2 linked regions of the Homo sapiens genome follow. The protein of the gene in region 2 purifies or fractionates together with the protein of the main gene of each other region. This does not show direct contact. Each region holds a gene or a part of one and is shown on either strand. Other genes may lie near its edges.

Region 1 (5,554 bases), on a different chromosome or scaffold from region 2:
ATAATTGCATTATACTTAGAAGTTGCACATTCCAAATCTGAAAATCTGAAATGCTTCAGTGAGCATTTCCTTTGAGTGTCATGTTGGCTCTCAAAAAGTTTTGGGCTGGGCATAGTGGCACATGCCTGTAATCCCAACACTTTGGGAGGCCAAGGTGGGTGTATCACTTGAGCCCAGGAGTTCAAGACCAGCCTGGGCAACATGGTGAAACCCCCCGTCTCTACAAAAACTACAAAAAAATTAGCTGGGCATGGCAGCGCCTGCCTGTGGTCCCAGCTACTCAGGAGGCTAAGGTAGGAGGATCAACTTGAGCCTGGGAGGTCGAGGGTGCAGGGAGCTGTGAATGCACCACTGCACTCCCACCTGGGCAACAGAGTGAGAGAGACCCTGTCTCAAAAAAAAAAAAAAAGTTTTGGATTTTGGAGCATTTTGGATTTCAAATTTTCAGATTTGGAATGCTCAACCTGTAATGTTTATCACACCATGGGCAGAAAGAATGAGGATCTTCTACCATAATAGTTATGCTGTTGCTTTAATTCACAATAATCCACTAGGTTATTTCTCATACAGTATTTTTCTGAGTTTAAAGCAAAAGGTTATAAATCAACGTTCCCCTGCCTACAAAAAAACTCAGTTTCCATAGATTTGATCAGAAATTATTTGCAGCTTTAAAACTTAACAACAGAAGGCCGAGGCGGGCAGATCATGAGGTCAGGAGATGGAGACCATCCTGGCTAACACGGTGAAACCCCATCTCTACTAAAAATACAAAAAAAATTAGCCAGGCATAGTGGCGGGCGCCTGTGGTCCCAGCTACTCAGAAGGCTGAGGCAGGAGAATGGCATGAACCCGGGGGGCAGAGCTTGCAGTGAGCCAAGATCACACCACTGTACTCCAGCCTGGGCGACAGAGCGAGACTCCGTCTCAAAAAAAAAAACTGAACGACAGAATCCACTGATTGAGTGTGGCAGTCTAAGGATCCTTCAACCCTTCTGACCGATAAAAATAAGACACTGCATGAAATATAAGACATCATTTAAAACACAGTATTGCTGAACCAGAAAAAAAAATGAATCTGCAGAGACCAAAATGGAAACTAGAGCCCTGGGAAGAAATCAAGCACAAAGCTGGCTTTAGCTTCAGAGATTTCTGTTCTGGATTCTTGCAGCTTCCACTTTGGCCATCGAAGGTGCAGGGGACAGAAGGCACATGCAGTGTCTGTCAGTTAGAAGCCCTGCATAGAGCTGGGGTCCCAGAGCAGCTCTCAGTCCAGGACAAGAAATCAACCCACATCTACATGGTCCACTTTGATAGTCTGATTCCTTTGCTGTACTTTGTCTCATCTTTGAATATAATTCTTTTTTGTATCTGGTAATTCTGGGATCTGTAGTCTTTGCTGGGTCTGATTTTGCAGTTTGTTGTTTCTACAACTGTTGTTCATGGCGCTTGTTTTCTGATGCGGTCTTTTTTTTTTTTTTTTTTTTGTGACCATCTCATGTCTTTGGAAACTGAGTCCTCTATTTAAAATGCATTCCTACAGAGAGGATTTACATATTTACATTTTTTTCTGCCATGCATCTAGGAATACTACCATCTATGAATACTTCAGATTTTTGGCTTGGAACTGTTGGGCTTACACAGACTGACTACCAGCCCCAGACCTACCTAAGTGCAAGCTGTGGGTAGGCACTGAGGGGAGAGAGACTCCTTTCCATCCCACTGAGGGGCAAGACTGAGACAGACAAGCTGAGTGTGTTTTGTTTTATCACCCCTGAGGCTGTGGCCCCTCAGAGATCCTAGCTCTGTGTCAGTCTCCCATTAGTCTCCTGACCCTGGGCTTGGCCTTCCAAACCCAAGGATCAGCAGCTGCCTTCAAGGCACAGGCTGACTCAGTGCTTTCTCCTACCCTGTTTCTTCTTTGATCACGGAGTTGAGCCATGCTTTATAAAGGTTTTTAATTTTATCCAACATTTTTGTGTTGTCAAAACATTGAATGAGTTTCTCTCTGTGTTCTGCTACATTGCTGGAAATAGAAACCAATTCACGTAGCTAGGAAATAGTCTAGTGGTTAAGAACTTGAGCTTGGGAGTCTTTAATCCCTCCTCTTCATTTACCAGCCCTGTGACCTGGAACAAGTTTTTTAACTCTTCGTTTGTTCCTCAATTGTTAAGAGGGAAATAGTTCCTACCTCACAGCATTACTGTGAGATTTAAGTGAGATATTTACAAAGCACTTGGTACAGTCCCTGCAATATTGTAAGCATTCCATCAGAATAATAGCTGTTACTAATACTGCCATAGACACACCTTTACTAGCAAACATGAAACTCACTTGTGGTTTCTAAAATCGTTCATTACGGAATGGCATTTGTTGACTAACTCTTCATCCACACACCGCCTTGTTTCTGTATTCCACAGCCACAGGACTGTGGGACCTGGTGCTTTCCCAAATCAGGAGGTGCCACCCCCAAACCTCACCAGTTGTTCCACACACGGAGTTATCCTTGAAATAATTTCAGCATCATTAGAATACATAAAAGCTGTCTACGTGCATACTTTCTGATGCTCTTAAAACAGTTTCACCACTCTCAGATCGGCTTTGGTTGTTTCTCAACAGGACAGTCTGTGGCTGTGTGAGAAGACCTGTGAGACAGGAATGCTGTCTTCTCCTCAGTATTCTCCGTGGGAACTGACGGAACTGTGGAAACTGAAGGAACGGTGCGGTGATCCTTGTCGATGTCAAGCAAGATAACAGGGACTTGAATTAGCAGAGTCTAAAATCAGGGCAGGCAAACGATAATCTGAGTGCAAGTCTGAGGAGTCCCAGGGTTTAGCAGTAGACTGTATGGTCTTTCAAGAGAGTTCCAGACTGGCACTTTCACCCAGAACCAATGCGGTGTTTCTTAATGTTTGCACAAATTTCCTTAAAAATCAACTTGTACTGTAGCATAAGAAAAGTTTTTATTTATCTATTGGAAGATTATCAGAAAAATACCAAGTTATTTTATAAAAGAAAAAATATTTCTAAATCCTGATGCATTGTGGCTAATTAGTAATTCACCATTACCTATAGTTTTTGGTTAAAACTTGGCCTAGTTCAGAAATCTGTAGTAGTAACTGAGAGTTTGAATTTCAACCTGGATTGCAGGATAGCTCTGTAGAGCTAATTAGGATAATTATCAGACAAAAAGGAACTCACAGGAATGCTGTGTGATCATGTGATCACATATTTGAGCAGTGGTCACTTATACCAAAGTTTGGGGTTTCTGGAAATAATGTCAGATTTTGTGGATCTCTGAAGTGGGCAACTTGAACTAACTTGAAGAGGAACCAATATGATTCTCAGTTCTGAACCTTGGTTTTAAAGAAGTTCATTTATATGGTAGACTAATACCCAAATTTTCTTTCTGCCATCTAACATAAATCCTGAAGGTCACAGTTTAGTACTCATAGTTTTTAAATGCTAAAGTTGTGTGAGTATGAATAAAAGCAAATACCTCTCAGGGTTTTAGTGCCATCGGGAAGGATATTTCTAAATTTTGTTGACATTTTGAAAGAATTAGTTTTGCTTTCCTCCTATCATTGCCTAATGTTTACCTAATATGAGTACATTTCAATCAAAGCTGGTTATCACAGAAGAAGATATACTCAGCTTAGGTATAATTGTAGGGAAAAGCATGTGATTAATTTAAGTACTCTTAGAAATAGTGCAACTGAGAAGACAGATAATAGCATATTGTTATACATAGTAGAGGATGTCTCCCCAAGTTTAAGGGACATTTCCCAAAATGACCAACCAAATCATTTCTAGTAACCCTTTAAAATAGTAGTTTCAATAGAGAATTCCATTAAAACTAGTCTTATGACAGATATTAACTGTGTTCAGATTTTATTAGGCTAGCTAGTTTCTTTCTATTTAATATTTAAATCTTATCATGAAATGCAGTGATGAGCTGTAAAAATAAATATGAAATAAGATCAGAAAATCATTAGTAGGTTCAAAGCCTTTATTATTGCTATTATGTATAAGCCTAGAAATGGTCACTTCCCAACAAAAAATACATCCCTTGTTATACTTAGGACAAGTTGTAAACCCCCTTTGTTTTGACAGTAGAATTGTTCCAGTGAATCATTTATTTCCGGTGAACCCCAGACACGATAAGCAGTGTGGTCTTTAAATTTTATTAGTTGGTTGTCACCATCGCACTAATAGACAATCTCCATTTTCCACAGAATAAAACTGTAATGACTTTAGGTCATTTTCCAGCTCGATTTCTCTGCCCGGCTTCTAAAATTAGAACGAAGGTGGGGAAGGATGTGATTAAGACAGATCCGATAAAGCATGCTACACATACTCTTCCCCCACCCCGTCCCCAGGCAGTAGCTTACCCTTAAAATCAAACAAACAGACCCATGGTCTCCATTTAGAATCAAACTGTTGCTATCTAGAGACAGTTTAATGTCATAATACGAGGACTAAGCTTGACTTTGACTTTGTATTTTGCTGGGCAACTTACTTTGGGACTTTCATAGGACAACAGAAGGTCTGACACAGGAACTTTGAGAAGACGTGACAGCAATCCCTTCACCTTTTGAATTGTCATGGAGCCTATCAAAAGACAAGAAAAGTCCATTCGTTCTCTCAAATGACAGTTACCTGTAAAACTAGCTCATGTGATGAGACCACAGTATCATTGCAATGATAGCTGTATCTGTCTTTTTTTTTTTTTTTTTTTTGAGACTGACTTACTTACTTACTTAAGTAAGTCTTGCTCTGTCGCCCAGGCTGGAGTGCAATGGTGTAATCTCGGCTCACTGCAACCTCCGCTTCCCGGGTTCAAACAATTCTCCTGCCTCAGCCTCCTGAGTAGCTGGTGCCCATCACCACACCCAGCTAACTTTTGTATTTTTAGTAGAGACGGGGTTTCACCATGTTGGCCAGGCTGGTCTTGAACTCCTGACCTCGTGATCCGCCCGCCCTGGCCCCCCAAAGTGCTGGGATTACAAGCATGAGCCCAGCGCCTGGCTGTATCTTTCATTTTACCCAAGTCACTTTACCCAAGTAAGTAATTAGGGGAAAGCCTGAGTCTTGTACCACCTGTTCATTTGGGGAACTGTGGGAAACGGAGCCAACGGACCTAAGTGCCCTTTGACAGTGAGTTTCATACCATTTCAGTAGTGTATTTCTTTCTTAATCTGAATAAACCAGAATGATACTCTCAGCACAGAAGAATAAAGGGAGCGAGTCATTAACGTTTTCTTTTTAAACCTTTATGATGACTTCCTTATGAATTACTGAACGAACACTGGAATGGGACTCAGGTATCCTGAGGACATCTCTCAACTCTGGCCTTAGTTCCCCCTCTGTAAAATTAGGGTGCCAACTAAATGATCTACAAGGTCCCTTCCAGCGCCGCCATTCTGTAATTACATCATGTGTAACTGTATTAAACATACACAAGTGACTGCCAGGCATGGGAATGTAACTTCCGAGTAAATGCTTTGGTTTGTTCAGAATACACTATGAACTTCTTTCCAAAGACGGGTTGTGGTAA
Region 2 (7,037 bases):
AATGGAAAAGGAAGTTAATCAGAAATCCCTAGAAAACCAAAGGCTATACAAAGAAAGTCAGACCAAGTATGAAGCAAATTGAAATATGGCATGGATTTGGACAATATATCCACGGGAATGCAAGAGAAGAAAATTCATTTGACCTTGATGCTTGGAACATTCTCCAACAAGTAGCTCAAGTTTTGTAAATAGGATTATTTCTCTTTATCCATGGTCCCATGCATACTACTTTGTTCTGCAGTGAACGTTTTTCTAAATGCAACAATTTTCTATTATTCCTGCAACAGAGTATTAGATTGGAAGTTTGACTGGAAACACCAAGGCATGATGGATTTTAGGTATCAAGGGGAGTTGCAAGACAGACACTGCACAGAAGTTAAAAGGAGGTGGCCACGAACCAGCCAGATGACTCATTTGACTGTCCCCTGGAAAATCTGGACCACAAGAGAACAATGGGCCAGCTACTTTGCTTGTGGGCAAAAGGGGTGCTGTTAAATTGGGGTCAGACCACACTCTCATGGCTTGTCTGCAGAAAGGGTGAAAGCTGTTTTGAGCCTAATGAGAGTGAGAGAGCCAGCCTGAACTATCTAAAATCTGGCCCAAGAGAATTACCGGGGAGGACAACAGGACCCCCAAATCAGAGTATATCTGGAGTGACCTGGTTGAAAAAGCCACTGTCTGAGGCAGAAGTCACAGTCAGAAAAATGCCTGTGGCATGAGAAGTACAGACAAAAGTTTCCAGTGGGAGCCTCTGAAGACCCATGAGCGTGCTCACAAAGATCTGCCAGGGTCAGAGGATGCCGGCTTCCTATCAGGGTGCCAGGCAAGCAACAACAGTCTTACTCCTTTATCCATCCTCTTTCTTCTTACTTTGAATCTGAGGAGGCCAGAAACCATGGTAGCAAGATGGGAAGGGAAGTTTGGGAGCATAACAGAGAAAGAGAAGCAGCGCGCTGGCCTCTCCTGGTTTCCTGTCTGTGGAAGGCTGTTGCTGGACAAAGGGAGAAGCTTCAAGTTTCAAACATGCTCTGAGTTTTGATTTGACATGAACCTGAACACTTTTATTTATTTTTTATTTTTGGGGTTTTTTTGTTTGTTCATTTTGAAATGGAGTTTCGCTCTATTGCCCAGGCTAGAGTTAAGTGGCACAATCTTGGCTCACTGCAACCTCCACCCCACTGAATTCAAGCGATTCTCCTGCCTCAGCCTCCCGAGTAGTTGGGATTATAGGCTCCCGCCACCACGCCAGGCTAACTTTTGTATTTTTAGTAGAGATGAAGTTTTGCCATGTTGGCCAGGCTGGTCTTGAACTGCTGACCTCAGGTGATCCACCAGCCTCGGCCTCCCAAAGTGCTGGGATTACAGGCGTGAGCCACTGTGCCCAGTCCTAAACACTTTTAATTACTGAACTGAGACTATCTGTGAAATAAAGTGATTATGGAACTTTCCATTGCCTAAGAGCACCCAGAGAAGTTCTAGAGCTGGTCAGTATTTTCAAGTAGGAACAAACGAAGGAATTCATTGAGTAGGTTTAAAGGGATAGAGGGAGACAAAAATAAAAGTGAATTCTAATTATGTCTCATGAGTCCTGCTTGTTTAATATAACAATTATAATAATATTGTAAATGTTATTCACTGATTTTATATTTTTAGGATCAACCTACAGAGAAAGCTTGAAAGACAATTATAACTATAGAATAGAACAAAATGGTTATAAACCTTGATGATAGTAAAGTATGGTAAAACTTAAAGACACCAAGGGGTAGATGAGAGAGGGAAGGTGGAAAGAAGCAGAGGGGAATCTATTCTTATTTTACAGAGAGTGGAGTCAAGAGATTCCTGCCTTATATTGATGAACTAAGAAACAGGTGGTTAAATATATAATTTTAACTTAAAAAGATATCCAACAGAAGAAATAAAAGTGTAACGAATCAAAACTGGAAAAAGGAGAACGGGGAAAAGGGGAAGCCTATGTGATTTAAATCCCTCAGCTTTCATAAAGGGTTATCAATAGTTACCACTTAAAACTGATGACAAAAGAAATAGAGGTACAAGATTTCAAAACACAAATGACAAACAGGTTTCCTCTGTGCCATGGTCTGATTGTCTGTGTCCCCACAATGCACATGTTGAAACCTAGTCACCAGTGTGATGATATTAGGGGGTGGAGCCACTGGGAGGTGATTGGGTCATGAGGATGCATCCCTGATGAATGGGACTAGTGCCCTTAGAAAAGAGGCCCCACTCTAACTTTGGGAGGCCAAGGCAGGCGGATTACGAGGTCAGGAGTTCGAGACCAGCCTGGGTAACATAGTGAAACCCCGTCTCTACTAAAAATACAAAAATTAGCCGGATGTGGTGGTGGGCGCCTGTAATCCCAGCTACTCGGGAGGCAGAGGCAGAATTACTTGAACCTGGGGGGCAGAGGTTGCAGTGAACCGAGATTGTGTCATTGCACTGCAGCCTGGACAACAGAGCCAGACTCCATCTCAGAAACAAACAAACAAACAAACAAACAAAAAAGACAAGAGGCCCCAGGGAGCTGTGGTGCCCCATCTACCATGTGAGGACACAGCAAGAAGGTATCATCTATAAGGAATGCCTGCTTCCTTATAGATGGCCTTTATCATCTCTAAGGCCTTCACCAGAAATTGAATCTGCTGACACCTTGATCTTGGACTTTGCAGTCTCCAGAACTGAGAAAGAAATTTCTGTTGTGTATAAGCCACCCAGTTTATGGTATTGTTCTAACAGCCCAAATGGACTAAAGACAATTTTGGGAATGGAGCTGGTATCAGGAAGGGGATAATTTTTACTTTTCACTTTATACATTTCTATACTTTTTGTCATGTGCATGCATGACATTTACAACAATAAATAAAATGAGATTAAAGGAAAATAATAAGAATGTTAATTTAAAAATGCTTACCTTGCTCTAATCCAGGGTTTGGTGTGCATGTCCAAACCACTTCCCCAGCTGCCGTGTTTTTCTGAAGCTGGTGGCAAAAAGCCCCTTTCTGGGGCCAGCTCCTCTGCAATTGCCCTGATGTGGTAGGGCTCAAATCCACAGCACCCGCCAATGTACCTGACCCCCAGGTTGTAGGCCTCTCTGGCGTATTTTTGAATATCCCATCTGGTGGCAACTCTGGACTCCAGTCCTGAATCACAATAGTTAACAGCATTTCTGTTACTGTTCTCATTTTCAAATGATGGATGCTCTAATGAGCAGTTTTTCCAATTAAAAAAACTATAAACTTTAGATGATGCATTCTTCTGATAGCTCATTTTTGGTTAACTCTGAATGTTTTGTCATATGCAGTCTCTTATTGTAAAACTGGGCCACAATTTATTATAGCCATTTGGATTTTGTCACGAGAAATACAAGGACCTCTACTATGCACCTGAGCTTACCAAAGGGATATTCTGGGAGATCCACAAACCCCTCTTTGCCACAGTCAGGCGCGTGGAACCCCAGAGGCTGCACCATGAGGTGCGCTTTCAGCCCTGCCCACTCAAGACCCTCCTTCATGAGCTCCATCGTCTTCAAGCTGGTGTCGGGCCCAAAGCGGCAGTTCACGCCAACGATGGAAGCCCCTGTGCAAAGAAATAACACTTACATTTTATTATTTATTTGTTTATTCTTTTTTTTTAATAGTTGGAAGGTACCTTAGAGGTTAGCCATTCCCCTCCACCTCCCACAATTTACAGATAAGAAAACTGATTGGAGTTCATTCTTCTATTTCCAAACTGCTCTCACAATATCAAGCACACTTTGTTAAATTTCGTAAGCAACAACTGAGCTGTGTATCACGGTATGGGTCCAAATTACCTGCCTTCACCAGCCTCACAGCACATTCTCCGGGGGTTATATCATGCATGTCTCCCTCTGGGCCTATGCACATGGTAACTGCCACGGGTCTATCTGATTCTTTTAAGACTTCCACAGCCCACACAGCTTCTTCAACGTGCTCAAAATACTAAGAGAAATGTCACTTTTTCTACTGGTCCAAACATAAAGCAGATTTTGAATGGTAAAGGTAAATATAGCAAAACAGTTATAAAAATTACCAAATAGAATATAAACATATGCATAATAAAACTTGCTAAGGAATGTGTGTCTATCAGACTGACTAAAGAATACCTTTCTGAGTAAACATTTTCATTCCTATAACAATAACATATAGTTTTTCATTCAGGGTTCATTGATTCAGTGAGATGATGCCTATTAGTAAAAAAGAAGAAAACACACCCAGAGGTTTTCAAAGTAATTGAGTATTTAAAATCATAATTTTGTAATTTTGAAGGAGGAAAAGTTTTGCTAATAAATTTTAGATTCATCTCTTATAAAACTGGGGTAATCTCTGAAACAATGAGTAGCTTATCATGTGTTATAGTTCAAAGAGCTTTTATATTCACTTCTAGTTAGATATTCATAAGTGCTCCATAAAGTAGGAAGGGAAGCACCATTTCCCCGGGTGAGAAGATTGAGGCACAGCATAGGAGAAATAGCTACTCCCTGTCTTTGCCAGTGGTGGACAGGACATCTTGTCTGGTAAACCCATGTCATTTTCTTGGGTGCTTCCCAGGAAGCCCCTTCAGTGCCACAGCTGAAAAGCTGACCTTAAGGCAACTAAAGAAAAGCCAGAAATCTTCCTGTTTCTTCCCTCTTGAGTTAGAAACAAATTCTGCAGAAGCAGTGTGAGGAATTATGAGAGAATCAAAAGACGGGTTCTTAAACAAACAGAGTGGTGTCATCATCCATCTGGAAAGCACAGAGGGTGGAATTTGTGCTTGTCCCTGCAGATGACTGTTCCCAGTGGGGTTGGCCAGGCGTGGGCAGGAGGATGAGGCAAGGTTTTCAGTAGAGTTCAGTGGGGTCACTAGGGGGAATAATGGTGGCGGCTATTCTCTCTCTCTCTCTTTTGAGACAGAGTATCACTCTGTCGCCCAGGCTGGAGTGCAGTGGTGCCCTATCTTGGCTCACTGCAACCTCCGCCTCCCAGGTTCAAGCCATTCTCCTGCCTCAGCCTCCAGAGTAGTTGGGACTACAGGCTCCCACCAACATGCCCAGCTAATTTTTGTATTTTTAGTAGAGATGGGCTTTCACCTTGTTCACCAGGGTAGTCTCAAATTCCTGACCTCATGCCATCCACCTGCCTTGGCCTCCCAAAGTGCTGGGATTACAGGTGTGAGCTACCGCGCCAAGCCAGGGGATATTCTCTTGTTTGGAGTAAAGTTGTGGGTTGAAGGCATGACCCCAGGCAGTAGCAGTTATGTTGGGAAATGGGGAATGAGGACTTTCGTTTTGGAAGTGGAGGAAAGAGAATGTTCTGGGCCTTCATGTCCAATCAATGACCAATTCTTACTGATTCTTTCTTCAAAATGTAATTCACATGTCATAGCTTGAGTGAAAGCAGAGAGGCAAGAAGAGCAAGACATGGATGGAGAAGGCTATGGAAACTACTGGGTGCTGAGCATTATTGGTGGGGCCTAGACGAGCCTGGATAGCCACCACCTTCCAGGCCTTGCTCTCTCAGTCCCCAGCCCACACATGCAGTGCCCTCCTGTGTGGATTCTCCCTCTGGAGAGGGTGCTCCCGGAGGCACTGTGCCCTATGCTTCCTTATAGGTTGTAGAGTCCCCCAAGTCAGCTTCTGCAGCCACCCAGACCTTAGAAGATAAAAGGCTATGGTCAGGCCTCTCTTGGGTCTGTCCTTTGGCTCTAAGAGAACCTAGCATACCAATGAGGGAATGTTGGCCTTGACTACCATGCATTTAAATAAACCTTTGACCATCCACATGGAAGAAATGAGGGCAGAATGTTGTCCAATACCCTCATGAAATGTGAAGACTCTGCAGTTATGCTTGCAAAATAGGTTCAATCCTTTTCCTCCAATACTAGCCTCACCTCTGCAATCAAGAAGTCCACATTTTTCCAGGCAAAAACTTCTAGCTGTTGTCGAAAAAGTTTTTTAATTCTAGCTTCATCCTTCTGGTATTTGTATATTGATGTCTGGCAGATCCCCCCTGCTACCAAAGCATCACCTTTGCCAGCCACTTCCCTGGCGAGGTCACAGGCAGCAGCATTTACATCTTCCCACTGAGGTTAGAGAGCAAGAGTTCAGATAGTGAGCCTAGCAGTTTGAAGGTAAAATATAAAAGATAACTAAAGGGACAATAAACAAGTAAGATGAGTATAAGCCACTCTCTTCAATGCAAGCAGAAAAGACCAGCAGAGTTGGGTACAATCTCCTCTGTTACCATGACCTTATATTTCCATTATTGTACTTACCACATTGGATTTTAATAACTATTTGTTTGCCTCCCATACTTGACCTTGCACCTCCAGATAGGGTCTATGCCTTTGTATCAACTTTGAGTCTAACATAGAGAATGGACTGTAACAGATACTCAGTACATGTTGGTTGGTTGAATGAATTAATGGGCATTAACATTTACACGTATTAACATTTTACATTTGCAGAATATTTCACAATACTTTCACATCCTTGGTCTTACTTACTCTTCTCAACAGGTCTATGAATTTAAGCACTACTGTTGTCTCCATTTTACAGAGAGAAAACCAATGCTCAATGCAGGTAGGTGTCTTACACAAAGCCACACAGCCAATAGGTGGCAATGCTGGATATCAAACCCGTTTTTTCTCATTTCTACTCCAGTATTGTTTTTTAGGGCCTCCCTGTCTCCAGAAGAGAAAAGTGTGAAATGAGAAGGTGAAAAGAGCATCTATGAAGTGCTTTCTCTCTAAAAAATAGCACAAGAAGACAGCCATGCCCTTCCAATGGTTTATTTTACCCCTAGTCCTGACCCCTCCTCTACCTAAATGGGAAGAGAAAGCTAATTCATTTAGTATATATTAACTTCTTTTTTTTTGCTGACATGGGGTCTTGCTCTGTCACCCAGGCTGGAGTGCAGTGGTGTGATCTCGGCTCAATGCTATCTCCCAGGTTGAAGCCATTCTCATGCCTCAACCTCCTGCGTAGCTGGGATTACTGGCGCCTGCCACCACACCCAGCT

The links. Proteins that work in one complex are often made in the same cells at the same time.
Region 1: the proteins of BHMT2 (region 2) and TBCE purify together in Homo sapiens (affinity purification with mass spectrometry; 3 studies listed by BioGRID and IntAct, with this or other methods). This does not show direct contact.

Annotation. Positions count from the first base shown.
Region 1 is NC_000001.11:235,447,403-235,452,956, reverse strand, and holds the end of TBCE (tubulin-specific chaperone E), read right to left. Parts: exon of another isoform or gene 4,609-5,554; coding exon 4,517-4,608; exon of another isoform or gene 4,288-4,516; coding exon 4,195-4,287; 3' UTR 2,752-4,194; coding exon of another isoform or gene 2,617-2,751; 3' UTR 514-2,616; downstream 1-513. Other genes in the region: B3GALNT2 (UDP-GalNAc:beta-1,3-N-acetylgalactosaminyltransferase 2), read left to right, coding at 2,617-2,717. UniProt on the Homo sapiens protein: Tubulin-folding protein; involved in the second step of the tubulin folding pathway and in the regulation of tubulin heterodimer dissociation.
Region 2 is NC_000005.10:79,079,749-79,086,785, reverse strand, and holds part of BHMT2 (S-methylmethionine--homocysteine S-methyltransferase BHMT2), read right to left. Parts: intron 6,100-7,037; coding exon 5,908-6,099; intron 3,978-5,907; coding exon 3,830-3,977; intron 3,595-3,829; coding exon 3,412-3,594; intron 3,159-3,411; coding exon 2,930-3,158; intron 1-2,929.